5 separate regions of the Homo sapiens genome follow, and regions 2, 3, 4 and 5 are each reported to be linked to region 1. The links are microRNA targets in miRTarBase. Many come from high-throughput screens and were not tested one by one. Region 1 holds a microRNA gene; each other region holds the end of a gene's coding sequence.
Evidence for each region. The annotated mature microRNA hsa-miR-508-5p reads UACUCCAGAGGGCGUCACUCAUG and lies in region 1 at 3,426-3,448, opposite strand. An mRNA with a match to its seed (bases 2 to 7 or 8) in the 3' UTR can be bound and repressed. Matches are read on the target gene's strand: a 7mer-m8 pairs with bases 2 to 8, a 7mer-A1 pairs with bases 2 to 7 and ends in A, and an 8mer does both.

Region 1 (5,896 bases):
TGCCTGTAATTCCAGCGCTTTGGGAGGCTGAGGTGGGAGGTTCAGTTGAGGTCAGGAGTTTGAGACCAGCCTGGCCAACATGGTGAAATCTCGTCTCTACTAAGAATACAAAAATTAGCTCAGCATGGTGGTGTGCGCCTGTAGTCCCAGGTACTCGGGAGGCTGAGGTAGGAGAATTGCTTGAACCTGGGATGCAGAATTTACAGTGAGCCGAAATCACGCCACTACACTCCAGCCTGAGTGACAGAGAGAGACTCCATCTCAAAAAATAAAAAATAAGAATCTGGAAAATAAAATCTAATCCATAGTGAATAAAAGCAGATTAGTGGCTGCATGGCTCTGTGGTTATGTGCAGAAGACCGAAAATGAGGATCACAAAGAGGCAGGAGGAATCTTTCAGGGAGGATGTATAATATTCCCTATTTATTTTGATTTAGGGGATGATTTCATGGGTGTATAAACAGAATATGTCAAAGCGCAAACTTTATGTCAGTCATGTATCAACGACGCTTTTTAAGAACTAAAGCTATCACAATACAAAAATCTCAAAATAACAAACACATGCTCATACACACAATTCAAAAAAACCATATAAGCTAAAAAAAAAAAATCAATCAACAAATAATGCAAATTATCCCTAACAAAAGAAAGAAATTTTAGCCTTATGTACCAAAACTTCTATAAATGATTTTTTAAAAAGTAATGAATCAGAAAAACAGGGCACAAATAAATAAAAACTAAAAAGTAAACCAATAATATATTTTTAAACCCCTATCAACAATCATCCCAAATTAGAAAAGCTCAACAAACAGGATTAAAATAAATAAATAAATCAACTACAACAAATTCCAAACAGAATCAATACATGAACTTATCAATTAGAAAGCATGTTGCAAATACCAAACCATGTAAGCATACACACAGATACTGAGGCAAAACATTTAAAATCCAAGCAAACTCCCACAACTTAAAAAAAAAAACACATCCCCAATAAAGCGCACATATATATGAAAGACAAAACTTTCTGAGCCCCACACAATTAAAGGGGAAAAAATAACTACAGCAACAAAACAAAATTCATACAAATTTAAATATCCCAAAACACAAGGAAAATGAAGAACCCCCCCCCCCCACACACACACACAAAATAAAACAATAAACACAAACTGAAACTAAAAATACATGGAAAATAACAAAATACTTTAAAGAAGTCAACATCATTCAAAAATAATCACAGAAATGCACGCATACACACCCACATCCATCCACCCACCCACCCACTCACATATACACACAAAAAGTCAGCTGAAAAGCAAATAGAAATACACTAGAGAATAAAACAAAGAAAGATATAGCAAAACAGCAGGAAAGAAACAAACATGTCTAAATACACAAAGGAAACTACAACTAAAACAACTCCCAAGCACCTCTCAGTACAAATCAAACCAAACGCATAAATTAAAACCAAATCAAAACCAAAGAAGAAAACTCAGATTGGAACCAACAACTAATAATTAAATCATGACAGCCCCCTCCCCCCGAAACAGGAATAAAACATTTGCTGAAACACAAACCACAATTCTAACTTAAAAAAAAAAAAAAACTTCAAGTATGCAACGAAACAACAAGCAGAGGTGCCATGAACACTGAATTGCAAACAATAAAAAATCACACTGTACCCCCAAAATATGTACAATGATTATGTGTCAGTTAAAAATAATAATACAAGCAAACAAAATAAACAAATAAACCTAAAAAGGAAGAACCAACTTTGAAAAATAAATGCACAGAGACTGGAAATGAAAGGACAATTATAAACAAAATAATATCACAAAAAACAAAAACAAAACCAAAATCAGACAGTTACCAATGTCTGGATAAACAATATTACTAAGCAAAAACAATTTGAAAAGTCCCCCCAAACCCAACCACAATATGCACATGAACGAATCAACTAACTAAATTAACTCATTTGTAAAAACCAACACACACATACTCACACACAAACTCACACCTTCTCAAAAATAAGCACAAATTTGAGAACAATTTGCAGTGGTGCCACTGTCACTGCCCCAGACACACATCTAGGGTGGTGAGACTTTCTGCCCAGGAAAACTCTTAGAGCTCATGAAATAGGGAAGAAGATACCATGAGCAGTAGACACTGGTTGTACACAGGCGATAATGTAGTAGTATTAGTGATATAAGAGAAGAATACCCTTCCTCTTGATTACAATCTAAATTTTTGCCAAGATTTGGAACGGAGTGAGACATGTCACTGACTCGAGATGACAACAAAATTCCATAAACTTCAACTTGCCCACTTAAGGTGCTTTATGAGAATTAATCCGGAAGGGGTCACCAGGATGATTACCCTCCAACCCCACTCCACCTCCATTTTTCCAGCACCGTAGTGTGTACAACCTGCTTCCTAGTCACTGCTCCAGTCTGAAGATGTTCTCCAGGGATCCGGCGCTGGCCATCTTTTGTCTGTGATTCTCAAGTTTTCTTTCTGAAGACCTTAGGTTAAGAAGGAGCAACTGAAGGGAAGTGGAAGGGAAAAGACAAATATATATGTTATCATTCTCAATAATCTGAGATGAATACCTTCACTTCTTTTTATTCCTTCATATAATTTTAAAAATAAAATGTTAAATATAATTCAAAGAAAACTAACAAAACAAATATTCTAGGCAACTTCTTAACCTTTTATAGATATGTTGAATTTAGAAAGGACTGATATACACATATTTTCAATAAATATTTTTTAAAATATACATATAAATATTTTTTAAAAATATATACATAAATATTTTATATATATATATATTTTTTTTTTAACCAACAGATAGATAATTTTGGAAATAATGTATTTTTCCAAGTAAGGAAGAACACACAAACTCTTAAGGAAAGGCTTGTCTTCAATCCTGAAAGAGCAAGAGCTTTTTGGTGCAGAGGGATGCTTCTGAGGCAGGAGGGAATTTGAAGAGCCCACTGGGAAATGAAAAGGCTTGGAAGCTAAAAGAAATGTTGTGAGGAAAAATACGTTGGAGGTTTTTCAAGGCAAAATGAATAGTTGGGCTCTGTAGCAGTAGAAGCTCTGAATATAAAAAGAGGAAAAGCCACATCCTCACTACAAATTTTCTTACCTGTGTGGGCATGCCTCCTTTGGACAAGGGTATATAAATCCCCGGAAAGCCTACATGGGTGATTTTTCCTGGGAGCCCTCAGTCCCTAGGATTTGCCTTTCAAGACCTGCCTATGGGAGTCCATTGAGTTAGCCCAGCAAGGGGAGGGTGGTGCTTGGACACAAGGGAGGGCAGCTCTGTGCATGCGGCTGTATACACTCACACCCATGGCCACCAAATATGCGTTACGTGATGTGTATTACTCTACTCCAAAAGGCTACAATCATGTTTTAGTTTACATGAGTGACGCCCTCTGGAGTAGGGCACTACACTCAGCTGAAGGTGGTGGCTCTACCCAAATATATACGTGAAGTTTAGATACGATGAAGAATTTCTAGTATGTTTGCCACTCCATTCCCATTCTCTAACCATCCTTTAGTGAGGATACTCTTACTTGCTGCATATTTCATGTGCTGATTTTGAGGACTTCTTCTCTTCAGTCGGCAACAAATAATCTCACCAACATTTTCCTATGTATTTTCAAGTCATTAGGAATGGCATATTAAAAATGATTTGTGTTCCACCAGTGTTAAAGGTCTCCCCACCCTCTGTGCCCCCAAATTCCTAGTCCCTTGGTTCAGAGTTATTTAACTTTTAACACCAAAACAACAGAGAGAACAAGGTAAACATGCAGAGAATTCAAGCAAAAGAGATAGATCATTTAGGCAGTGCCAGGATTCATAGGACAAAAATCTCATTTTCTCCACCATTCCTGGGGATTATACAGATCATTTACCTTGCCTGGAATCATTTCCAAGAGAGCAATTGGCTTAGAACCTAGTTATATCTTATTCTTCCTTCTCAGCCCTGGACTTTCTCAACATTTCCTAGAGTTCTTGTCAAGAGGGTCTCTTTCAAAATTTTCATTTGGAGACACAGGCCTCCCAGGAATCTATTTTTTCCTTTCAATACTGAGGCTGAAGAAAGGGGGAAGCAAGTAGGAGTAAGAGATCCACAGACCCCAAACTAGTTATATTTTAAGAGCTAGGGAGCCAAGTTAAACAAAAGACTGTAAAGAGAGAGGGAGGTGCACTGAATAAATTAAAGGATTAGCTAAATTACTTGCCATGGAGCAAGAGAAAGGGAGATTATGGTGTGGGACATTTAATCTGGACATGTCCAGGTCTCCCAGCATTCAGGAACCTCCACCAGTGTCAGTAGTCCAAAATGACCCAAGTCTACAGCTACACACCAATAAATCAAAACTCAAACAAAAATATTTCTAAAATCAATTCTACCTCATAAATAAGTGAAACAATGCTCAATATCACTAATTAGGGAAATGCAACCAAAACCACAATGTGATACGACTTCACACCCATTAGAATCAATATTATCAACAAGCAAACAAACAGAAAATAACAAGTGTTGACAAGTGAAGAAATTATAACCCCGTGCATTGCTGGTAGGAAAGTAAAATGGCACAGTCACCACAGAAAACACTATGGTGGTTCTTCAAAAAATTAAAGATATAATTACCATATTTCAGCAATTGCAGTATTGGGTATATACCCAAAAGAACTGAAATCAGTATTTCAAAGGGACATAGTGCCCCCATGTTCAAAGCAGCATTATTTATAATAGACAAAAGGTAGAAGCAATACAAGTGTTCATCAACAGATAAAGTGATATGCAAACTGTGGTATATGCATACAAGGAAATGTTATTTGCCCTACAAAAGGAAATAATTTTCTTTTTAAACTGGGTTTCCTTATGTTGTTCAGGCTAGAATCTAACTCTTGGACTCAAGCGATCTTCCTGCCTCAGCCTCTTGAGTAGCTGGGACTACAGTCATGTGCATACATGTCCAGCTTAGAAATAAAATTCTGACACATGCTATAACATGGATTAACCTTGAAGACAATATGCTGGGTAAAATAAAGCAGTCACAAAGGAATACTACTGTATGATTTTATTCTATTCAGTCCCTGGAATAGGCAAACTAGGAGAGACAGAAAGTAGAATAGAGGTTACCAAGAGCTGGGAATGGGGAGTCAGTGTTTAATGGTTACAGAGGTTTAGTTTGGGATAATGAATCATTTCTGGAGATGGATTGTGGTGATCATTGCACACCACTGTGGATTTACTTAATTCCACTGAATTTTACACTTAAAATGATTAAAATGGTAAATTTTATGTTTATATACATTTTACAATTAAAAAAAAATTAACCTCCAAATAATTCCAAATACCTCTGAAAATATAAGAACCCACCCCCAAAACAGATACCAAAACTAAAACAATCAGTAATAAAGCAAAAAAATACGGCCACGAAGCAAAATAAAACCACTCTAAGTAGATACATGTTGTACAGTGTTAGCAACACTAGTAGATAAAATAGAAGATACTTCCTCTTCTTGATATTAACCTAAATTCCCATTTAAGGTGGGCAACAAATTTCCTTTAAAAGAAGTTATGAAGTAAACCGCCTGGTGTGGATTAAAAGAAGAGATGCATCAGAAAGCCCCATTTCCTAACACAGGAAGGTAAAATATATAACCCGATTCCCAGACAAGGTTCCTATCTTGCTTATGGTCACCAGGCCTCTGAGACTTAAAGCTTACAGCTCTCTTTTGTGCTCTTTGTACTCTCTCACTCTCTCTCTCTCTCTCTCTCTCTCTCTCTCTCTCTCTCTCTCTCTCCCTCTCTCTCTCTCTCTTCTCCTTTCTGTCCCATCCACGAGGTTAAGTGGAGACATCAAACAGAAAA
Region 2 (5,896 bases), not on the chromosome of region 1:
GGCTTAGAGAATGTAACTGACCAAAGTCACACTGCCAGGAACTGGAAGCACTAGGATTTGACAGCATATCCAAATATGTCAGCAATTTCAATAAACATGACTGTACTCAACAAACCAAGTGTAAAGACAAATTCTAACAGACTGAATTTCTTTTTGGACCAGCCATATGTTCTTTAGAAAAGATACACCTAAAACAAGGATATGGGAAGTTGAGGGCAAAGGGATAGAAAAGGATATACAAGGTAGGCATGAAACTGAAGAAAGCTGATGGAGCTGCATTAGTCGCGCAAAACAGACATTAAGGTATAAAAGCATTTTAAGAATCATGGGGTCACTATGTTTTTATAAAAGAAACAATCTATTAGGAAGATGTAATAGTTCAAAACCAGGCACATAATATGAGTCTTGTAGAACAGAATCACAGTGAGAAACTGACGAAACCTTAAGTGTACTTGGAAGTGCTAACACGTTCTTTATGATAGAAAACATTTGAAGAGGCCGGGTGCGGTGGCTCCCACCTGTAATCCCAGCACTTTGGGAGGCCAAGACAGGCGGATCACGAGGTCAGGAGTGCGAGGCAAGCCTGGGCAACATAGTGAAACTGTCTACAAAAAATACGAAAATTAGCCAGCCTGGGCCGGGCACAGTGGATCACACGTAATTCCAGCACTTTGGGAGGCCAAGACAGGCAGGTCACGAGGTCAGGAGATTGAGATCATCCTGGCTAATATGGTGTGTAACCCCTTCTCTACTAAAAATACAAAAAATTGGCCAGGCACGGTGGCTCACGCCTGTAATCCCAGCACTTTGGGAGGCCAAGGCAGGCGGATCACGAGGTCAGGAGTTCGAGACCAGCCTGACCAGCGTGGTGACACCCCGTCTCTACTAAAAATACAAAAAATTAGCTGGATGTGGTGGTGTGTACCTGTAATCCCAGCTACTAAGGAGGCTGAGGCAGGAGAATCGCTTGAACCCAGGAGGCGGAGGTTGCGGTGAGCCAAGATCACACCATTGCGCTCCAGCCTGGGCAACAGAGCGAGACTCTGTCTCAAAAAAAAAAAAAAAAAAAAGCCAGGCATGGCGGCACACGCCTGTAGATCCAGCTAATCAGGAGGCTGAGGCAGGAGAATTGCTTGAACCTGGGAGGCAGAGGTTGCAGTGAGCCGAGATTGGGTGACTTCACTCCAGCCTCGACAACAGAGTGAGACTCTGTCTCAAAAAAAAAAAAAAAAAGGCTGGGCACAGTGGCTCACACCTGTAATCCCAGCACTTTGGGACGCCGAGGTGGGTGGATCACCTGAGTTCACGAGTTTGCGACCAGCCTGGCCAACATGGTGAAACCCCGTGTCTACAAAAAATTAGCCGGGCGTGGTGGCGGGTGCCTGTAATCCCAGCTACTCAGGAGGCTGAGGCAGGAGAATTACTTGAACCTAGGAGGCAGAGGTTGCAGTGAGCCGAGATTGCACCATTGCACTCCAGTCTGGGCAATAAGAGCAAAACTCCATTTCAAAAACAAACAAAAAAAAGACTCAACCCAGAATTCTTTTTTTTTTTTTTTTTGAGATGGAGTCTCGCTCTGTTGCCCAGGCTGGAGTGCAGTGGTGTGATCTCAGCTCACTGCAAGCTCCGCCTCCCGTCAACCCAGAATTCTATATCCAGTGCAAACACACTTAAAGAACGAAGGCAAAATACAGACATCCTCAAATGAAACAAACCTAAGATATATATTTCTTGCCAGCAGACTTGCCTGAAAAGAAATGCCAAAGGAAACTCTTGGTAGAAGGGAAATGATACCAGAGGGAAAGCGGGAACTTTGGGAATTAAATGATAGTAATAGAGATTGCACAATTATTTTATCTTTAAAATATGGCTGGAGGCGGCTGGGCGCGGTGGCTCACGTCTGTAATCCCAGCACTTTGGGAGGCTGAGGTGGGCGGATCCCAAGGGCAGGAGATGGAGACCATCCTGGCTAACATGTTGAAACCCCATCTCTACTAAAAATACAAAAAAATTAGCTGGGCGTGGTGGTGGGCTCCTGTAATCCCAGCTACTTGGGAGACTGAGGCAGGAGAATGGCATGAACCTGGGAGGCAGAGCTTGCAGTGAGCCGAGATCACGCCACTGCACTCCAGCCTGGGCGACAGAGCAAGACTCTGTCTCAAAAAAAAAAAAAAAAAAAGAAAAAAAATGTGGCTGGAGGCCAGGTGCAGTGTAATCCTAGCACTTTGGGAGGCTGAGGTGGACAGACCACTTGAGCTCAGGAGTTTGAGACCAACATGGCGAAATACTGTCTCTACTAAAGATACAAAAAATGACCGGGTGCGGTGGCTCACGCCAGTACTTTGGGAGGCTGAGGCGGTTGGGATCACAAGGTCAGGAGTTTGAGACCAGCCTGGACAGCATGGTGAAACCCCATCTCTACTAAAAATACAAAAAACTAGCCGGGCATGCTGGTGGGTGCCTGTAGTACCAGCTACTCCGGAGGCTGAGGCAGGAGAATTGCTTGAACCTGGCAGGCGGAGGTTGCAGTGAGCCGAGATCACACCACTGCACTCCAGCCTGGGCAACAGAGTGAGATTCGGGAAAAAAAAAAAAAAAGCAAAAGCAAACAAACAAAACTCAATAGTAAGAAAACAAACAGGCCAGGCACGGTGGCTCATGCCTGTAGTCCCAACACTTTGGAAGGCTGAGGCAGGTGGATCACTTGAGGTCAGGAGTTGAAGACCAGTGTGGCCAACATGGTGAAACCCCCTCTCCACTAAATATACAAAAATCAGCCAGTGTGGTGGCACATGCCTGTAATCCCAGCTACACAGGAGGCTGAGGGAGTTGAATCGCTTGAACCTGGGCGGCGGAAGTTGCAGTGAGCTGAAATCATGCCACTGCACCCCAGCCTGGGCAACAGAGCATGACTCTCTCAAAAAGAAAGAAAAGAGAAGAAAAAAGAAAAGAGAAGAAAAAAGAAAACAACCCAATATTTTAAAGTGTGCAAAATATATAAACAGACATTTCATCAAAGATGCTATATAGATGGCAACTAAGCACTTGGGGAAAAAATGCTTAACATCATCAGACATTAAGGAAACGCAAGGAAAACCACTATTAGATATGTCTACATACCTATTAGAATGGCTAAAATAAACTTTTTAAAAAACTAAGCTGGGGCTGGGCGTGGTGGCTCACCCCTGTAATCCCAGCACTTTGGGAGGCTGAGGCGGGTGGATCACTTGAGCTCAGGAGTTGGAGACCAGCCTGGCCACCCAACAAGGTGAAACCCCATCTCTACTAAAAACATAAAAATTAGCTGGGTGTGGTGGTGGGTGCCTGTCAGCCCAGCTACTCAGGAGGCTGAGGCACGAGAATCACTTGAACCCAGGAGGTAGAGGTTGCTGTGAGCCAAGATCACGCCATTGCACTCCAGCCTGGGCAACAAGAGCAAAATTCTGTCTCAAAAACAAATAAACAAGAAAAGGTTTTAAAAATTGATAAACCACTAGCAAGAAAGAGAGAGAGGACACATCAGGCTTGAGAGAAGTGACATCATCATAGACTGTGCAGACATTAAAAGGCATAGGCATATTAGGAACTAGATATTACTAAGGCAGTAAACCAGATCACTAGCAAATTCGTTGAAAAACACAATTCATCAACTATTGGTTGATAATACTGATACGCATCTTCTGTGTGCCAGGGCCTTGAGGCCCTGCTCCAGGCAGAAACTCGGCAGTGGTTGGGAAGGCATCAGATGTCAGATGGCACAAGAGGACTCAGAGCTGAGGGATAATGGGAAAGAACACAGAGGAATCCAGCCATTTCCACAGCGTCCAGCTCTGCTGTGGGAGGCTGGGAACAGCCCAGCACTACCACCCTGGACTGGGAGGACAAGACCACAAAATGCAGCTTCCCTGAACCTCCTCTTGGTGATGGGGTTGATGTGGTCGAGGTAGAGGTGAGTATGTCTGGAGCCTCAAGCAACTGCCCATACCTGCTGGGACCAGGCCGAGGTGCCCAGGGAGTAAGAGGCAGCATCCTGGAAGAGCACAGATGAAAGAGGCCCTGAGAAGTGTTGGTTGGCCAGGTGCTGTGGCTCACACCTGTAATCCCAACACTTTGGGAGGCTGAGGCGGGAGGATCACTTGAGCCCAAGAGTTCAAGACCAGCCTGGGCAACATAGTGAGACTCATCTCTACAAAAAATAAATAATAGAAAGAAAAATGTGAGTTGGCCAGGCATGGTGGCTCATGCCTGTAGTCCCAGCTACTCAGGAGGCTGAGGTGGGAGGATCACTTAAGGCCAGGAGTTCAAGACAAGCTTGGGCAACACAGTGAGACCCTGTCTACAAAAAATAATAATTAGCCAGACGTGGCGATGCATGCCCAGGCTCCCAGCTACTTGGGAGGCTGAGGCAGGAGGATCGCTTGAGCCTGGGAGGTCAAAACTGCAGTGAGCCGGACTGCAACACTGCACTCCAGCCTGGGTGACAGTGTGAGACCCTGTCTCAAAAAAGAAAAAAGAAAAGAAAACTGTGCTCTTAAGAGCCAGTTCTCCACTCCTCTACCTCAGGAGCCACCCCAGAACCCATCCACTTTGAGGACACGAGATCCCAGCCCACTCAGCCCTGGGAGTCCAAAGACATTTTAAACAGAGCCTCTCTTCACATTTATTAATTCCTGGGAGGAATGAGGGAGGCTTCTCCAGCCCCCCAGAGACCCCGGCCTTGTGCTGCAACAGGAGGGGAGGGAGCCAGTCCAGAATCCCCGGCACTTCTGAGGACACCAACAGCACCCTGGGCCCGCGGCTGCATCAGCTTTCTAGACAACGGGAGAAAAGAGAAATGGTGGAGGAGGGGAAATCCTATGCCCTCCTCCTCGCGGAAATCAAGGCCGACCTCCCTGACGCCCCCCCGGAAGGAAGCGCGTGGTCGGCTGCCAGCCGAGACCCCCATCTGCGCCTCCAGCTGCAGGGCCTTTGCTGGGCGGTTCCTCGCCCGCAATTCCCCCACGAGCCCTGGGGAGACCCAGCGCTAACCAGGGGTGCCCAAGGGAGGAGCCGGGAGAGGCCCTCCTGGAGGTGGGCACAGCCCAGGCAAACATCAGCAGACGGAACCAGCACCCGGGACCCAGGGAAACGTCACCTGCCACCAGGAGCTCCACAGGGTCGCTGAGCTCCGATTCGAAGGTGTGGGGCACCCAGGAGCGGTAGCGGCACCTGTAGTTGCCGGCGTGCTGGGGCCCCACGAAGATCAGCTCGAGGTTCGCCGCGGCCCCGGGGGTGCGGACCGTCTTCACGGCCTTCGTCTCGCCCTCGCGCAGCAGCTCGAAGGTGACGTCGGGGATGGGTCCCTCGCAGCGCAGGACGGCATCTCGGCCCGCCAGGACCGCCCCACTCCACGTCGCCCGGAGCTGAGGCCTGGGAGGGGGTCCTGGGCGGAGCGGGCGGGTGGTCGGGCCAGGCCACGCCCCAGGCCACGCCCCAGGCCACACCCCAGGCCACACCCCAGGCCGCGCCCGCGCCTGCGCCTCAGCCCCGGCTTCATCTTCCCTGTCTTGTTCCTGGGCGCAGAGGGCTCCTCCGGCGCCGCCGAGCTGCGCCCGCTGCCTTCACACCCCGGACATCCGCGCCACACGTGAGTGTCCCCGCACCCCTCCCCCAGGACCGTGGAAGTCCCAGATTCGGGCCTGCTCTGGGGCTTCTGGGGTCCCCAGCCTCGGTCACTCTGACGGGTGAAGGGAAGAAGAAATGATGGAGAAAACGGTGCTCCTTCATGGAGGGACCAAAAAAGGACATACAATCTATGTCAATAGATGAGGGTTTTCCCTCCATAAGTTTAACTTTAAAAGTGTATTTAAGGTGCCGGGCGCAGTGGCTCACACCTGTAATCTCAGCACTTTGAGAG
Region 3 (5,896 bases), not on the chromosome of region 1:
GGGTTTCGCCATGTTGGCCAGGCTGGTCTCAAACTCCTGACCTCAAGTGATCTGCCTTGCTCGGCCTCCCAACATGCTGGGATTACAGGCATGAGCCACTGCACCCGGCCATATATCTGAAGCCTTTTGAAGAATTGATGAGAAGAGAGGTTCAGGTCATATATGAATAGTAATGATGCATATACATCAATATATCAATATAAGTTTATATTATGCTTGATGGCATTATCATCCAAACACTTAAATTAAAATACAAGTATTTTCACTTTATTCATCACAAAACTGTCTTTTTCCCCATATCAGTACATGGAGAAACAATAAATTTTTAATCTTTGTTTTCATTTTTTATTTTTTTGAGACAGAGTTTCGCTCTTGTTGCCCAGGCTGGAGTGCAATGGTGCACTCTTGGCTCACTGCGACCTCTGCCTCCCAGGTTCAAGCGATTCTCCTGCCTCAGCCTCCCAAGTAGCTGGGATTACAGGTGCCCACCACCATGCCCAGATAATTTTTGTATTTTTAGTAGAGACGGGGTTTCACCATGTTGGCCAGGCTGGTCTCGAACTCCTGACCTCAGATGATCCACCCGCCTCGGCCTCCTAAAGTGCTGGGATTACAGGCATGAGCCACCGCACCCGGCCTTTTATTTTTTATTTTAATGATAAAGTTTTATATTTGATTATAATGCTTCTGCAGTTGTCCTGTTCTCTATGCCATATATATGGGTCTTATGGAGACTGAATATTCTCATACAGGATCTGATGAGACAAGTGTGACTTCATAATTATATATTAACATTGTTTAAAATATTCAATACATCAGCAAGACGTACCATCACTTTTTTATTTGGCAGTAATAGTAATACATCCATGTTACAGTGCTTATTTTGGCTAAAGAGCCAGTGCAATTTTTTCTGCTACTGTAGTGTTTTACTTTTACACAAATTAATGAGTACAGTCCTTACATTTAGGAGACAGAAACATTTACTGACATCAGCTAAGTAAAGCTAATACATGGTTGTTCACAAACTAAACAAAACAATAACATAATATACTCATTAGGAACAAAGTAGGGATGTTCTTATTTCCACTAATCACAGATTATATAAATTCTTAAATTTCACATACATATTTCTAAATCTAAGCAAAAAAATTAGAATTCAGCTTAATTCCTATAATCATTTTGAAATTTACATCAAATAATTTCTGAATATATATTCACATTAAAATAAAAGTAAATGGGTTATATAAACATAATTTAAAATTTCTGATTATGAAAAGTTATAGAGAAGTACATTAAATGTTACTTTGGCATTCCTATTTCCTAGGCTTACAGGAATTATTAAGAATTCCTTTGTAATGCAAATAATCACTCTCTTGGAAATTAAATTTAAGTAGAAAATGTTACATTTTAAGGCAAGAAAACATTTGTAAATATTTTTATAAAGGCATTTAATTCAACAAATTAACGGAATCATAGTAAATGGATGCAAATAAAGAATATTACTTTATGAGAAAGACAAAGTTCTTTGGAGCTTACTGTGACAGTATGGAAAACTTGTCTTCTTTTTTAAAAGATAATTCCATTTTGATACTTAATAAACATAATGTTAACCTTCAAGAAGAAATAAGCACTCTTAGTTGAACAAAAATGTAGGGAAATTAAAATACAAAAAATGAAATTAAAAGAAATACCAAATGTAAATTGCCTCAAAATTTATCTTCTTTCTTCTAGAAAAAAGGATATTTTCTCAGGAGTGACTTAATTGAAGTCCCTCTTATAATTTACATATGGAAGTGGATGGTAGAGCTCATGGTGGCAAGGGCAATTCCATGATTAAGTGTTTAAACAGGGTTTACCCTAAAAGGCTCTAAACTAATCATTTTTAAAGACATTGCTTTTGCTATTTAACCCAATTTTAAGGCAAATGGAAACCGTTACATATGTCTTTTTTTTTTTTTTTTTTTTTTTTTTTGAGACAGAGTTTTACTCTTGTTGCCCAGGCTGGAGTGCAATGGCACGATCTCGGCTAACTGCAACCTCCGCCTCCCGGGTTCAAGCGATTCTCCTGCCTCAGCCTCTCGAGTAGCTGGGATTACAGGCATGCGCCACCATGCCTGGCTAATTTTTGTATTTTTAGTAGAGATGGGGTTTCACCATGTTGGTCAGGCTGGTCTCAAACTCCTGACCTCAGGTTATCTGCCCACTTGGGCCTCCCAAAGTGCTGGGATTACAGGCGTGAGCCACTGCTCCTGGCCTGTTATATATGTCTTAAGTACCCTTCTGCATGCAGTCAGAAATGTTCTTTTCAAGAGGACATTTCCTTTAAAAAGTTCAAGTTTCTTATCTTACGATAAAGAGATATTTCCTATACTTATTGTCCTAAAATTCTATTTGGTCACTCTTACCTCTTTTGTGAAAGGCCACATCTTGCTAAAGTAGCAGCTACTGAACTGACCAGAAACAAACTCAAACACTGAATTTGACAAACCAACCTGCTGAATATAAGCAACTTTTTCTAAGATGAAATGTAAAAAAGAAAAAGAAAAAACAAAAAGCAACACCTTCTAGAAAGCCATTCATCTTATCTCATAAAATTAATTCCCCAGAGTTATCTCATGTAGTAGCAGCATTATCAAATAGTGCAATTCTTCAAAATTGATTTCAAATAATATCTTTCTAAAATAAATTACATTTACTTACAGCTTTGCTTATAAAACCACAGCTTAAAACACTTAGCCCTCAAATGGGTAAATTACTATAAGCAATAACTGTCTTGTCTACATGGTAATGAAATGCACGTGCACGCACACATGTGTGTGTGAAGGCCAAAGATACCGCAACAAGGTAAAAACATGTAATATTAAATAAAAAGTAAACAGTACATAATGGAATTTTTAGTTTTGGTACTTCTAATCATATTCCCGTCAATAATAAGAACTATAAATAGGTAATTGTTAAATTAAGCATCTATGTAAGAAAAGGCAAGGAGCTATATACTAAAGAACAGTGATAATTTGTATGTTTCATGCTATATAACCTATAAAGTACATGCAAAACAGCATGATCCTGAATTCCATATTTTATAGTTAATTTACATAAATGTGGCACATACAGAAAATTACAAATCTTAAAAGATTATGCTTTTCCCGCCCACTTTTTTCATCTTCTATTTATTAATCAGAAACTAGGCACTTTAATCTAAAAATTCGCTTTTTAAAAATGCATTTTAGGAGTAAGACATGGTGACACATGCCTCTGGTATGAGGAGTTGGAGACTGCAGTGAGCTATGTATGATAGCACACTGCACTCCAGCCTGGGCAATAGAGCGAGACCCCATCTCTTAAAAGAAGGCAAAAAACAATGCATTTTAGGTCCTTTTGTGCAACTCACTCCTAAAATGACTAAAGCCCGTTTTAGGGGCAAAATCAACAAATCTCATCTACTTACATACTGAGTTAGTCACTCCAAATAAGTGGTATATTATTTAGAAACAAAATTAATACAACTCTGAAAGCATTTAATATACTCTTATAGAAGAACTCCACCCATAAAAACAATTCATTTGTTTGTAGATTTATCATAATGAACATGAAATATATACTTCCACATCATTAAAAAATATTTTTGTTTTACATTCCAGGGAGGAAAAAACTCTTCTTTAAAATGTCAATAAGATTCAAACTATGAATATTTTTAAAACATGGGCATAATATGACAAATTCCCACTGGGCTGAGTTTTCTGTGGGAATAACTAAAAGGAAGGAGAAAGGAGAAATTATTTCACTGTACCAAGTTTCATACCTTCAGATGTTGACAGTCTTCAAATAACACTAAATTTTAAATTGCCTTTATTAATTAATAAATGTTATCTTTTTAATCAATACTCATTCCAGGGGAAAATGCTCTAATGTATAAAAAGAAAGTTCTTCAGTCTCTTTGTAACTTACAGGACCAACAGTAACATATTTTGGAAACTACAGTTAATATAAATTTGTAAATTGTAAATTTCTCAATGTCAATTCATTTAAATGCTGTATTTGTTTTATTTATTCACTTCTGAGATAGGGTCTTGCTGTCGCCCAGGCTGGAGTGCAGTGATGCAATCACAGCTCATGACAGCCTTGACCTTCTGGACTCAAGTGATCCTCCCACCTCAGCCTCCCAAGTAGCTGGGACCACAGACACATGCCACCACACCCAACTAATTAATTTAATTTAATTAATTTATTTTTTGAGACAGAGTCTCACTTTGTTGCCCAGGCTGGAGTGCAGTGGTGCGATCTCGGCTCACTGCAGCCTCCACTTCCTGGGTTCAAGCAATACTCCTGTGTCAGCCTCCCGAGTAGCTGGGACTACAGGCGCCCGCCACCACACCTGGCTAATTTTTGTATTTTTAGTAGAGACGGGGTTTCACCATATTGGGGAGGCTGGTCTCGAACACCTGACCTCAGGTGATCCGCCCACCTTGGCCTCCCAAAGTGCTAGGATTACAGGCATGAACCACCACACCCAGCCTATTTTTATTTTTTAAAAAAATTTTAATATTTCCATGGAACTCTGCTTGATACCAGCTAATTTATTTTTATGTTTTTGTAGAGACAGGCATCTCCTTATGTTGTCCAGGCTAGTCTCAACCTCCTGGCCTCAAACTGTCCTCCTGCCTCAGCCTCCCAATGTATTACAGGCATGAGCCACTGCAAGTGGCCCATTTAAATGTTCTATAACAATATTCAGTGATTACAATTTCTTTGATTCAAATACATAAGCAAATGCACAAGCAATAATGTATGCAGTACATATTAAACATCATTACTGCCTAAACTTGATTAAACAAATGAATAACTTTATAATTAAAAATATGTTTCTAGGCAAAGTTAAATATATTGACATTAGAAGTAATATATTCTTGCATGTGTGGGCCACAAAGACCTTGGCTAAAGTGTACATTTTAAAGGTGCAAAGCATAAAAACAGAGCTTTTGAGAATGACAGCTTCAAGAAGACAAACCAATTAACTCCCAAATATTGGCTTCAATTCAAGCGATATTTCTGTAAAATATACATTTCATGACTTCAATTATTACCTAATGAATGCAAAAAGCCACTATGACTACACTACACAGGAATTCAATGACAGAACTTCTGTATAAATACAGTACAGTTGCTCATTTTTTAGTAGATTTTTTTTTCCTCCCTGAATCCACATGCATCAATTCTGTTAACTTTGTAATATATGTTACAAAATCAATAGTTACCTTAAAATATTTCATAGCACACTCAAATTGTATGATTCTTATGGTACTTATTGTACTTTGGCTTCCAGTAGCCCAGTGGACATAACATGACCATGACTGCTTAGACAACTACTTGTATGCCTCAGGGCATCTGCTTCAAGATAGGCCATTAAAAGCTCAGTGCGGCGAATGAGTAACTGCATGAGGTCTTCAGCTAAAGTCTCTGTACTTGAATAGCGCACCTTCTCAAAGTCAAAAATGTCTTTGAGAAATAAAAGAACTTGATTCTGGAAAATGAACATAAATTGGCATTTATTAGACCAAAATTAAGTTACATTGAGAAAGCTTCTAATATTATAATGAGCACTGAATCAGGACTCAGAAGACCTGACTTCCAGTGCTAGTTTCATATCTCATTAGAAAAGGGACCTTGCACAAGTGATTTAACCTTTCCTTTTTGGGGGCTCATTTTCTTTTTCTGTGAAATAGGGCTAATACCACCCACCCTACTTACTACTCAGGGATGACATGATGATCAAAAAAGATAACCTATGTGATACCATGAAAAGGTGGGGAAACATTTAAAAAAAGATAATCTATAAGAAGTGCCTGTAAACTCTAAAGCACTGTTTAAATGTAAGGGGTTATAGTCCTTTCCCTTC
Region 4 (5,748 bases), not on the chromosome of region 1:
ATAAAAATAAAAATAAATGGACTACCTTGCAGGCTTTTTGCTTGTGACTTTTTTTTTTCTTTTGTTTTTTTCTTTCTTTTTTCTATGGTAACAAACTCAAGTATGCTTATGACTTCTGCCTTTATCTTTCAGGCATCTGAAAGTTCCTGATGGCTCTCTCTGATCAATATGCAACAGTCACAGCTGTTTTAAAAAGACCTCTGTCTACCTCAGTTAAAGTCTGAGGCCAGACTAACTGTGGCTCTGTAGCTGGTTACAGTGATACGGCCTAAAGGCTTTCACCATTAGATCTATTTTTGAAAGTGCAAATGGATGTTTCCCTAATTTTATATCAGAGAACCATGCGTACCATGTTTTACTTATATATATATATTTATTTTATTTTTTTAGACAGAGTCTTGTTCTCTTGCCCAGGCTGGAGTGCAGTGGCGTGATCTCGGCTCACTGGAACCTCCGCCTCCCAGATTCAAGCGATTCTCCTGCCTCAGCCTCCTAAGTAGCTGGGATTACAGGCGTGTGCCACCACACCTGGATAATTTTTGTATTTTTAGTAGAGACGGGGTTTCACCACGTTGGCCAGGCTGGTCTCGAACTCCTGACCTCAAGTGATCTGCCTGCCTCGACCTCCCAAAGTGCTGGGGTTACAGGCGTGACCCATCGCGCTCAGCCCATAGTATATGTTTTATTGTTCATTTTTCTTAAGTACTTCCTTTAGCCTCATCTAAGCAGTAATGTCCATGAAATCTGGGCCACAGTTTCCTGACTGACATTAAACAAATACAGAACTATTTAAATTAGAAATACTCATTCGTTTACAACAGAATCCTCTTATATTCCACACGGTTTTCAAGTATTCCTTTCTCTGCGTCATTAGGGTAATTAAAGAAACCCAAGATTTGTTTCAGCAGCTTTTGATTTCCACTGGTAACGGGATAAATCCTCCATAGCGGCTAACGTGGAAGACACCTCACACATCACATCAGCATGCATGCCTTGCCCATACCGCGTGACCTCCAAGGTACCGTGTCCAAATGACACGCAGAATACCCTGCTGCTTTCTTGGAATAACTTTGACCTGCACCCCCAACTTTGTCTTTCACACCTTGAATTGATTTGCTCCCTTCTAAGTTTGCTGCTATATGTCTCCGGCATTGCAAAAAACGTGACTTGCACAGCAAAGGGTCAGCTCTCATTTCTGTGTTTGCTTTCCCTTCCAAAGGTTTAGCTTCTTCTCCCGAGATAAGAAGCGCCTGGCCAACACACAGAGAAACGTGCACATCCAGGAGTCCTTTGGACAGTGGGCAAACACCCACCGCGATGACGGTTACACAGAGCAAGGACAGGAAGCCCTGCAGCATCTGTGACCTTGGCCCATCTCCACCCTCCAACCTGGACTGCCCGCCACCAGCGCCTGCAACCGAACTGCAGCCCAGGGGTCATTGCTGCCTCAAGCCTCTCGGTGCAGATGCACCCTGAAAACTGACCCCTCAAACAGACTGTCTGATTTGAGGATGGACATTGAAAAACTGACGCCAAACTCTAAAGAAATGTTTATTTATACCCAGGGCTATCACTGTTTCTAATAGATGACTCTGATCCCGTAGGATATATATTTAATAATCCCACAAACGGAGGCCAGACTTCTGCGTTAACTTCAGTAACACAAGCTTCTTTAAGCCAAATACATCACTTGCCACTATCATTGCTGTTTGACTTGCTTTGTATAAAATGCTATGTGTAGAGGTTTTATTATCACAGGTGACATAGTTCAGCAGGAGGCATGGAAGGGCTAGATCTTCATTAGTTACATTCATGAAATTGTGATGGTAACGTATTATACAGAATGTATCCATCAGGCAGACAAGGGGTCTGAAGTCACAGGCTCAGTAGCCCAACTCAGACACAAAGCCACAGACAATATGGATGATGGTCCTCTTACCCAGAAACTGGAGACAACTTTGCAGGCACCCTGGCTGCGTTCCTGATAATGCCTAGAGCATGTAGCAATGTTCAAGGCAGGTGCCTTGGAATCTGCTGTGAGTTATGCAGTACTAACCAAACAAAGTTGCTAAGGATGAGATGTTGCAACATTTCTTGTGTGCACTTTTTTTTCCTGACATCTTTTTTTCCTTTTAGGATTCATTAAGTCATATACTTAGTCCCCTGCAAAGAAGAAGACAGATGTCCCAGAGCAGACTGAAAGCGGGGCGTGGGATCCTAGGCAATGCAGGAGGGCAGGTGGGGGAGCTGTAGCAGAACAAGGGTGCTAGGTGGGAAGCTGGCTTGGGGACCACACGTCTGGCTGACTCACAGGGCTATAGCAGCAGACAGAGAGCCAGATGCTCTACTGCAACTGGTGAGTTGGAGGCTTGCCCACATAACACTGTCTTTCTCTCCACCCGCCAAGCATCCAGGGCACAGGGCTGGTTGCTCACAGATTGAGCGAGGTAGCACCTCCTACCAGCACTCAAGTTTATCAGGGCCGCGTTCTAAACATTCTACTGAAGTTTGCTAAGAAACCATTAGGTGAGGCTGGGCACAGTGGCTCACGCCTGCTATCCCAGCACTTTGGGAGGCCGAGGCAGGTGGGTCACTTGAGGTCCGGAGTTCGAGACCAGCTTGGCCAACACGGTGAAACCCCATCTCTACAAAAATACAAAAAAATTAGCCAGGCGAGGTGGTGCATGCCTATAATCCCAGCTGCTCAGGAGGCCGAGACAGGAGAATTCCTTGAACCTAGGAGGCAGAGGTTGCAGTGAGCCTAGATCGTGCCATTGCACTCCAGCCTGGGCGACAGAGTGAGACTTCATCTAAAAAAAAAAAAAAAAAGAAAGAAAGAAACCATCAGGTGAATTTGCAGAATCTAGAATGGACTCTGCTTCCAGATTGCCGAAAAAAAGAAATGATCAGACAGGGTAATTATTGCTGCGTTAGAGCAGTGTTTCTCAAACCTGAGTGCCCATTAGAATTATTAGAATTTATTCTCAAAGAGTATAGAAGCAGGTATACTGATGAATTTCTCTCCCACCCCTGGCCACCTTTGTTGCCCTTCCAACAGGTAACCAAAATTGCCAGTTTCTTGGTTATCTTTCCTAAACACTAAATGTCTCTCTTTTTTTTGAGATAGTCTTGCTCTATTGCCCAAGCCAAAGTATAGTGGCACCATCTCTGCTCACTGCAACTTCCGCCTCTTGAGTTCAAGCAATTCTCATGCCTGAGCCTCCCAAGTAGCTGGGACTACATGTGTGTGCCACCATACCTGACTAATTTTTGTATTTTTAGTAAAGACGGGGTTTCACCATGTTGGCCAGGCTGGTCTCGAGGTCTCGAACTCCTGACCTCAAGTGATTCACCTGCCTTGGCCTCTCAAAGTGCTGGGATTACAGGTGTGAGCCACTGTGGCTGGCCTTTTTTTTTTTTTTTTTTTTGGACACAGGGTCTCACTCTGTCACCTAGGCTGGAGTACAGTGGCACTATCATAGCTCATTGCAGCTATGAACCCCTGGGCTCAAGCAATCCTCCCACCTCAGCCTCCCAAGTAGCTGGTACTACTGATGTGCACCACCATGCCCAGCTAATTATTTTTTGTAGAGACCAGGTCTTACTTTGTTGCCTAAGCTGGTCTCAAACTCCTGGGCTCAAGTGATCCTCACACCCCAGCCTCCCAAAGTGCTGGGAATTCAGGTGTGAGCCACCGTGCCTGGCCAAATGTCACTTTTTTGATAAGTCAGCAGATCCAGCTCTTGAGCACATCAGAGGCTAGATAATCGGGACAGAAAGGAAAAATCAATCCATCAGAAAGTTTATACATGCAATTATGTAAAATAAAATCAAGAACAAAAAGCATATATATATGTACATGTGTGTATATATTCCTTCTTTCCTTTTTTCTTAAGGGACAAGGTCTTACTATGTCACCAAGGCTGGTCCCAAACTCCTGGCCTCAAGCAATCCTCCTGCCTCAGCCTCCCGAGTAGATGGGACTATAGACATGAACCACCATACCTGGCCCTCCTTTTTTTTTTTATTTAAATGGCAGCATAATATATTCATGCTGTTCTGTGCTTTTCTTTTTTCCCCTTGAAATATCCTAGAGAGGGCCAAGGTGCAGTGGGTCACACCTATAATCCCCATATTTTGGGAGGTCAAGTAGGGAGGATCACTTGAGCCCAGGAGTTTAAGACAAACCTAGGTGACATAGCAATAACCCACCTCTACAAAAAATTAATTAAAATAAAAAAATAGGTGGGTGTGGTGGTGTACACCTATGATCTCAGCTACTTGGGAGGCTAAGGCAGGAGGATCCCTTGAGCCCAGTTCAAGGCTGCAGTGAGCTGTGATCACACCACTGCACTCCAGCCTGGGGGACAGAGTGAGACCCTGCCTCAAAAAAGAAAAAAAAATGTATAGCAATAACTCCATATGAGTACATAAGACAGCGGCTCTCATGGCCAGGAGCAGTGGTTCATACCTGTAATCCCAGCACTTTGGGAGGCTGAGGCAGGCAGATCATGAGGTCAGGAGTTTGAGACCAGCCTGGCCAACATAGAGAAATCCCATCTCTACTAAAAATACAAAAATTAGCTGGGCATGGGGGCATGCGCCTGTTGTCCCAGCTACTCAGGAGGCTGAGGCAGGAGAATCGCTTGAACCCGGGAGGCAGAGTTTGCAGTGAGCGGAGATCGCACCACTGCACTCCAGCCTGGGCGACAGAGCGAGACTCTGTCTCAAAAAAAAAAAGAAAAGACAGTGGCTCTCAACCACGGATGACTGAGCCCCCCAGGGGACATTTGGCAGTCTGGAGACATTTTTGATTGTCACAACTGGAGGGGGAGAGAGGATACTGTCATCTATGGGTAGACACCAAGGAAGGTGCTAATGAACATCCTACAATGCCCTGGTCTACCATATGGGGGTGATATTTATTAATGTTTATCTAGGCCCCACTGATGGACAGGTAGCTTCCTTCCAATCCTTTACTCTCAAAAAGTGTTGCACACTGTCACACACACAAAAGTCTACAGAATAAACTAGAAGCAGAATTGCTAGATCAAAGAGTATTTGCTTCTGTCATGTTCATGGAGACTGCCAAAGTCCCTACCATGGAGGCTGTACCATTGTTTTTCTTTCAAAGTCACCACAGCCCATAGAACACTAAGCCCAAATGTACAGGGTTGGAGTCTGAGTGTGCAAGTTTTTTGTTTTTTGTTTTGAGACAGGGTCTTACTCTGTCACCCAGGTTGGAGTGCAGTGGCACAATCTCAGCTCACTGCAACCTCTGCTTCCCGGGCTCGAGCAATTCTCCAGCCTCAGCCTCCCAAGTAGGTGGGACTACAGGCAAGCAAAACCAACACCCGGCTAATTTTTGTGTTTTTCGTAAAGAGAAGTTTTCACCACGTTGCCCAGACTGGTCTCGAACTGCTGAGCTCCAAGCCATCCACCTGTCATGGCCTCCCAAAGTGCTGAGATTACAGCCGTGAGCCATCACGCCCAGCCTCAGTGTGCATGTTTTCTTTTTTTCTTTTCTTTTTTTTTTTTTTTTTGAGACAGAGTCTCGCTCTGTCGCCCAGGCTGGAGTGCAGTGGTCCGGTCTTGGCTCACTGCAACCTCCGCCTCCTGGGTTCAAGCCATTCTCCTGCCTCAACCTCCTGAGTAGCTGGGATTACAGGCACCTGCCACCACGCCCAGTTAATTTTTGTATTTTTAGTAGGGATGGGGCTTTACCATGTTGGCCAGGATGGTCTCGAA
Region 5 (5,896 bases), not on the chromosome of region 1:
TGATATATACAATGAGAGCAGACTTTTAAAGACCAAAGTATGCTAATGACACCTCAAAATTGCAGCTTTTGGCTTATGCTAAATGATGTATTACCTACATCCTTGAAGAAACAATCTACTTTAACTGATCCAGAATCTTACTCTTTTACTCCTCAATTTATTTTAGGGGATTTCTAGAGTTTTAAGATGCTTCACACTCTATCAGTTCCTTGTCATATCTTGAAATTCTTTTTAGAATAAGTAAGTGTGGGCCGGGCACAGTGGCTCACGCCTGTAATCCCAGCACTTTGGGAGACCGAGGCAGATGGATCACCTGAGGTCAGGAGTTCGAGACCAGCCTGCCTAACATGGCAAAACCCCATCTCCACTAAAAATACAAAAAATTAGCTGGGTGTGGTGGCAGGTGCCTGTAATCCCAGCCACTCGGGAGGCTGAGGCAGGAGACTTGCTTGAACCCGGGAGGTGGAGGTTGCAGAGGATTGCGCCATTGTACTTCAGCCTGGGCGACAGAGTGAGACTCTGTCTCAAATAAATACATAAAAAATAAATGTGGAATTCACTTTGCAGTTGCTGCTGTACAACGCACATTACTCAATCTTTATGTTCGGCATTCTATGCTCTACTGAGAAATTTGGGTAGGAGTGAAGTATTTTGTATACATATCTTCATTTAATAAATAGCAATAGCTGGGTCTATCTTACTATTTTATCTATTGATAAAATATTTTGTTTCCCCAAGGAGTGCGAAGTATGTATATTACAATGAAGATATGTTTTAACCTTTCACCATTTGCTTCATCTTTTTCTACAGGGTGGCATGGAGAAATCGTTGTCAAAACAGAGATGTCCGTCAGTATGTTCAAGGTTGTGGAGTGTAACTCCAGAATTTTCCTTCTTCAGCTCATTTTGTCTCTCTCACATTAAGGGAGTAGGAATTAAGTGAAAGGTCACACTACCATTATTTCCCCTTCAAACAAATAATATTTTTACAGAAGCAGGAGCAAAATATGGCCTTTCTTCTAAGAGATATAATGTTCACTAATGTGGTTATTTTACATTAAGCCTACAACATTTTTCAGTTTGCAAATAGAACTAATACTGGTGAAAATTTACCTAAAACCTTGGTTATCAAATACATCTCCAGTACATTCCGTTCTTTTTTTTTTTGAGACAGTCTCGCTCTGTCGCCCAGGCTGGAGTGCAGTGGCGCAATCTCGGCTCACTGCAACCTCCACCTCCCGGGTTCACGCCATTCTCCTGCCTCAGCCTCCCGAGTAGCTGGGATTACGGGCGCCCGCCACCACGCCCGGCTAATTTTTTGTATTTTTAGTAGAGACAGGGTTTCACCGTGTTAGCCAGGATGGTCTCGATCTCCTGACCTTGTGATCCACCCACCTCGGCCTCCCAAAGTGCTGGGATTACAGGCGTGAGCCACTGCGCCCGGCCACATTCAGTTCTTATCAAAGAAATAACCCAGACTTAATCTTGAATGATACGATTATGCCCAATATTAAGTAAAAAATATAAGAAAAGGTTATCTTAAATAGATCTTAGGCAAAATACCAGCTGATGAAGGCATCTGATGCCTTCATCTGTTCAGTCATCTCCAAAAACAGTAAAAATAACCACTTTTTGTTGGGCAATATGAAATTTTTAAAGGAGTAGAATACCAAATGATAGAAACAGACTGCCTGAATTGAGAATTTTGATTTCTTAAAGTGTGTTTCTTTCTAAATTGCTGTTCCTTAATTTGATTAATTTAATTCATGTATTATGATTAAATCTGAGGCAGATGAGCTTACAAGTATTGAAATAATTACTAATTAATCACAAATGTGAAGTTATGCATGATGTAAAAAATACAAACATTCTAATTAAAGGCTTTGCAACACATGCCTTGTCTGTTTTTATTTAGACTCCTATAGTGTCTCTGAAGAAAAGAATACAGATATTTGAAAAAATATGATTTGGTGCTCTTAATATCTCTTATATCGTCACTTACCTCACTTAAATAGTCAGATATTGCTGGAGAAAAATTCACAAGCATGCTGACAGGTCTCACTTTAAATTCATAACCATAAATCTCAAATGAGCCCTCAAGTCTGCCTGACCATTTTAGTTACTTCTCTACAATCCTTCCATTTTTATGTCCCTAGTCTCCAAAATGACTGTTACTATTTTACTTTTCCTCTTCTCTCTTCAAAGCCTCAAGACACACATTCAGCCTCCTCCTCTGCCCCCTTATCCTCCACCCTCCTCTGCTCTCAGCAGATAACCTGGCCTCATATTACACTTCTAAAACAAAAGCAACTTCATACCAAGCTTTCCCTTCTACATCCCAAAGCAGCAGTCATACCTTCCCACAGGCCCATCCTTCCTTCCTTCCCTCCTATTATCAGGATGAAGAGCCTCTGCTCCTGCCAACAGCACTGACTCCACATGCAGTTTCCCTCCCATCCCTCTCACTACTCCAAGTCAGGCTGTTTCCTGCATCCCTAGTTTGTCCCTTTTAGCTGGATCACCTCCATCATTCTACAGTCTGCCCTAGTAACCTTCCATCTTACAACAAATACTCCACTGACCCTACATAATCCTCCAACTGCAACTCCATTCTCTGCTCCCTTTACAGCAAGACTTCTGGGGAAGTATGTCTGTACTTACCAACTCCATGACCTCACCTCCCAGTGTCTTTTCAACCCTCTCTAATCTGGCTTCTATCCTCACCCAGCTGAAACTGCTCCTCCAGGATTTCTCCCATGATTCCTCAGTGCTAATTCCAGTGATCATCTTGTTCATCTCAGCAGCATTTGACAAAGTGAACCGCTTCATACTTTTAGCAGTTTTTTAATCCCTTGGCTTTTCCTTATTTACATCCTACCTCACTGACTGTTCTTTCTCAGTCCTTCTTGCTCACTCTTTCTCTGCTATTTAATTTCTAAATGTGAGAGTGCCTCAGGGCTCAAGTCTATAATAATTTTATATACTACATATTTTACTTATTTGTCTCTTCTCACCAAAATATAACTTCCAAAATGACAGAGGTTTTTCCACTTTTTAAAAAAACATTGAAATAAACTCAATCTTTTAAAAAATATAAAAGTACTGTACAAAGATCTTTTATTTTTCAGAACTGTTTTGAGAGTAAATAGCCAACATGATACCCAATGGCCCTGATTACATCAGTGTGTAATTCCTATAAAGACATTCTCCTGCATAAAACCTCAAAACAATTATCCAAATTAGGAAATTAACACTGATACATTACTACCACCTAGTCATCAGATTCCACTCAATTTCATCGATTGTCCCAATAAGACCTTCATAACAAAAGCATCTAATTCAGAATCATATTGTATTTGGTTGTCATGTTTTTTAAGTCTCTTTGAATCTGGATTATTTCCTCAGTTGTTTCTTTCTGGACTTTTTATGACCTTGCCACTTTTGAAGACCACAGACTAGTTATGTTATAGAATGTACCTAAGGTTTTTCTGGTGTTCTCTCGATTCCATTAAGTTATGCATCTTTGGTAGGAATACCACAGAAGTGATGTTCTCACTGCATCCTTTCAGGTGGCATTCAGTTTTTGCAGTTTTGATTTGCCCCATTATTGATGATGTTCACTTGGATCACTTGATTAAGGTGAGGCCTGCAAGCCATCTTCACTGTAAAGTATTTGGGGAGGAGGTGCCTTGAGACTACTGCTCATCAAATTTTCAGTTTGTTTGTTTATTTATTTAGAGGCAGGATTTCACTCTGTCGCCTAGGCTGGAGTGCAGTGGCGCGATCTCAGCTCACTGCAACCTCTGCCTCCCAGGCTTATGCAATCCTCCCGCGTCAGCCTCCTGAGTAGCTGGGACTACTCGCACGCGTTACCATGCCTGGCTAATTTTTGTATTTTTAGTAGAGATGGGGTTTTGCCATGTTGCCCAGGCTTGTCTGGAACTCCTGAGCTCAAGCAATCTGCCTGCCTTGGCCTCCCAGGTGCTGGATTACAGGTGTGAACCACCGTGCCTGGTCATGCATTTATTTATTATATCAGTATGGACCCATGGCTTCTATTTTATTCAAATCATAAGGAGTTATAGTCCATTACTATTATTTATTTTGATGTTCACACTGTCCTCGATTTGGCCAGTGAGCCCCTGCAAGTTGTCTTCTGTGCCATTTCGACATATTTCCATCATTCTTCAAGCACTTTCTTGTTTTCTGGCACAAGATATTCTAAGGCTCACCTTGTTCCTTCCTTGCTTCCAAAAATGGAAAAGGCATTTCTCCAAGGAGCCCTGATTCCTCAAAGTGCATAATAGTATTAAAAAAACAGGATCTGGGCACTAGGGTATCACTGTTTCCAGGCCCTATCAGTGAACAGAGCTGGAAGATATATGTATTTACACTATATTTATCTCTATATCTATCTATTTATATTGAAAATCATGAATCCACACCAATATCTCCAATTCTAATCTCACACCACAGGATTCACTCTAGTTTTCTTCTTTCGCATGTTTTAACTCTCTTCTCTGACAGTAAGTAACTTAGCATCCATTATACTCATTATCCTTAAAATGTATCCTTAGTACATTTACGTATTTGATGGGTTTGCCTGTATGTAACCAATTCCCCAACTCTGCCCAAGTGCTCTCCACTCAGGCTCTGACATCCCTCAGTGGGTTGCTTCCTTCCCCAACACCTGGACACCCTCCTTACCATGATACATCTCTGATTTTATAATATGCTGAACCACTGTCCTGATAGGAAGAATAGAAATTTTTCACTCATTCCACTTCTGTATTCTAAACACCTAGAAGAGTGACTGGAACATGGTACATGCTCAATCAATATCAGTTGATCGAATAAATCTCTTGCTGATTATTTAGTATGTTCCCTCCAAACTGAACATTCTAAGCTTTTTGTTTTTGAGACGGAGTCTCGCTCTGTCACCCAGGCTGGACTGCAGTGGCGCGATCTCAGCTCACTGCAACGTCCGCCTCCTGGGTTCAAGCGATTCTCCTGCCTCAGCCTCCCGAGTAGTTGGGACTACAGGTACTCGCCACCACGCCTAGCTCATTTTTGTATTTTTAGTAGAGAGGGGGTTTCACCATGTCAGGAGATCGATCTCCTGACCTCGTAATCCGCCCGCCTTGGCCTCCCAAAGTGCTGGGATTACAGGCGCGAGCCACCGCGCCCAGCCTTTTTTTTTTTTTTTTTTTTTTTTTAATTAACTCTTCAAGGCCACATGATTCCAGTACAACCGCTTGCGGGGTTCCAAGCCACTTCTTGGCTATGTAAATGCAGCACATAGACTAGCCATGTGAGGGCAGCAGAGGGCCACTACATAGGTGCAACCTTTGGCTTCAAAATTCTTGGACCATTCTGACGTGATTAAACTAAAAACGAATGAGTTTATGCATATCGAGATACCCTGAGGTGTACAAAGGATGAGTCAAGGTAGCGGAGAGAGAGTTGAAGAGTGACAGCTGAGAAACAGAGATAGGACATGTCCAAGAAGTGCCAGGATAACCCAACAACACAGGCTGATTGAGGAAACTGCCAGAGATTAGACAAAGTAGACTGAAGAGGGAAAGCAATGTTTGTTGGAGATTTTGCTTTAGTTTTTGATAAATATTTCTTAGTCATACCAATTGTTTTAAATATAATTACGCCCCCAAACCAAATTTCTACTCTTATTCTGGCAACAGAATAAAAATCAATATCAATGTTTGATCATTTTCAAAGAAACTCAGTTCCTATCTTGGTTGAAATGCAGTGACATCCATATGACAATTGAGCTCTTCATGTGGCACTAATATAACTAAGCCCTGAGCACATCCCTTGCACTTCTATTTAGTGAAGTCTTTTAAAAAGTATTTTCTTTACAGTTGTTAAGTGGAATTACT

Region 2: the mRNA of A1BG is a reported target of hsa-miR-508-5p. Seed matches in the 3' UTR shown: 7mer-m8 at 4,466-4,472 and 7mer-m8 at 3,415-3,421.
Region 3: the mRNA of MIGA1 is a reported target of hsa-miR-508-5p. Seed matches in the 3' UTR shown: 7mer-m8 at 3,307-3,313.
Region 4: miRTarBase lists RILPL1 as a target of hsa-miR-508-5p. Seed matches in the 3' UTR shown: 8mer at 3,458-3,465.
Region 5: the mRNA of LYZ is a reported target of hsa-miR-508-5p. Seed matches in the 3' UTR shown: 7mer-m8 at 1,193-1,199.

The regions. Positions count from the first base shown.
Region 1 is chrX:147,233,555-147,239,450 of GRCh38, forward strand. It overlaps MIR508 (microRNA 508), which reads right to left and starts at 3,473; the gene lies at 3,359-3,473. The region is part of intron 2 of LOC105373347 (periphilin-1); the gene reads left to right.
Region 2 is chr19:58,342,219-58,348,114 of GRCh38, forward strand. A1BG (alpha-1-B glycoprotein) reads right to left here. Exons shown (of 8, transcript NM_130786.4): 7 at 5,135-5,422; 8 at 2,965-4,811. The coding sequence ends at 4,804. It overlaps ZSCAN22 (zinc finger and SCAN domain containing 22), which reads left to right. Exons shown (of 3, transcript NM_181846.3): 3 at 1-114. Among named protein-coding and RNA genes, the nearest start is that of A1BG-AS1, 6.8 kb to the right of the region's middle. RefSeq lists enhancers at 4,576-5,076, 4,744-5,023, 5,077-5,577, 5,794-5,873 and a silencer at 5,274-5,603.
Region 3 is chr1:77,874,471-77,880,366 of GRCh38, reverse strand. It overlaps MIGA1 (mitoguardin 1), which reads right to left. Exons shown (of 16, transcript NM_001416120.1): 16 at 827-5,521. The coding sequence ends at 5,303. Among named protein-coding and RNA genes, the nearest start is that of NEXN, 11 kb to the left of the region's middle.
Region 4 is chr12:123,468,154-123,473,901 of GRCh38, reverse strand. It overlaps RILPL1 (Rab interacting lysosomal protein like 1), which reads left to right. Exons shown (of 7, transcript NM_178314.5): 7 at 1,220-3,848. The coding sequence ends at 1,364. It also overlaps a transcript of SNRNP35 not described here. Among named protein-coding and RNA genes, the nearest start is that of SNRNP35, 13 kb to the right of the region's middle. RefSeq lists a silencer at 4,806-5,100.
Region 5 is chr12:69,352,343-69,358,238 of GRCh38, forward strand. LYZ (lysozyme) reads left to right here. Exons shown (of 4, transcript NM_000239.3): 4 at 811-1,892. The coding sequence ends at 877. Among named protein-coding and RNA genes, the nearest start is that of YEATS4, 4.5 kb to the right of the region's middle.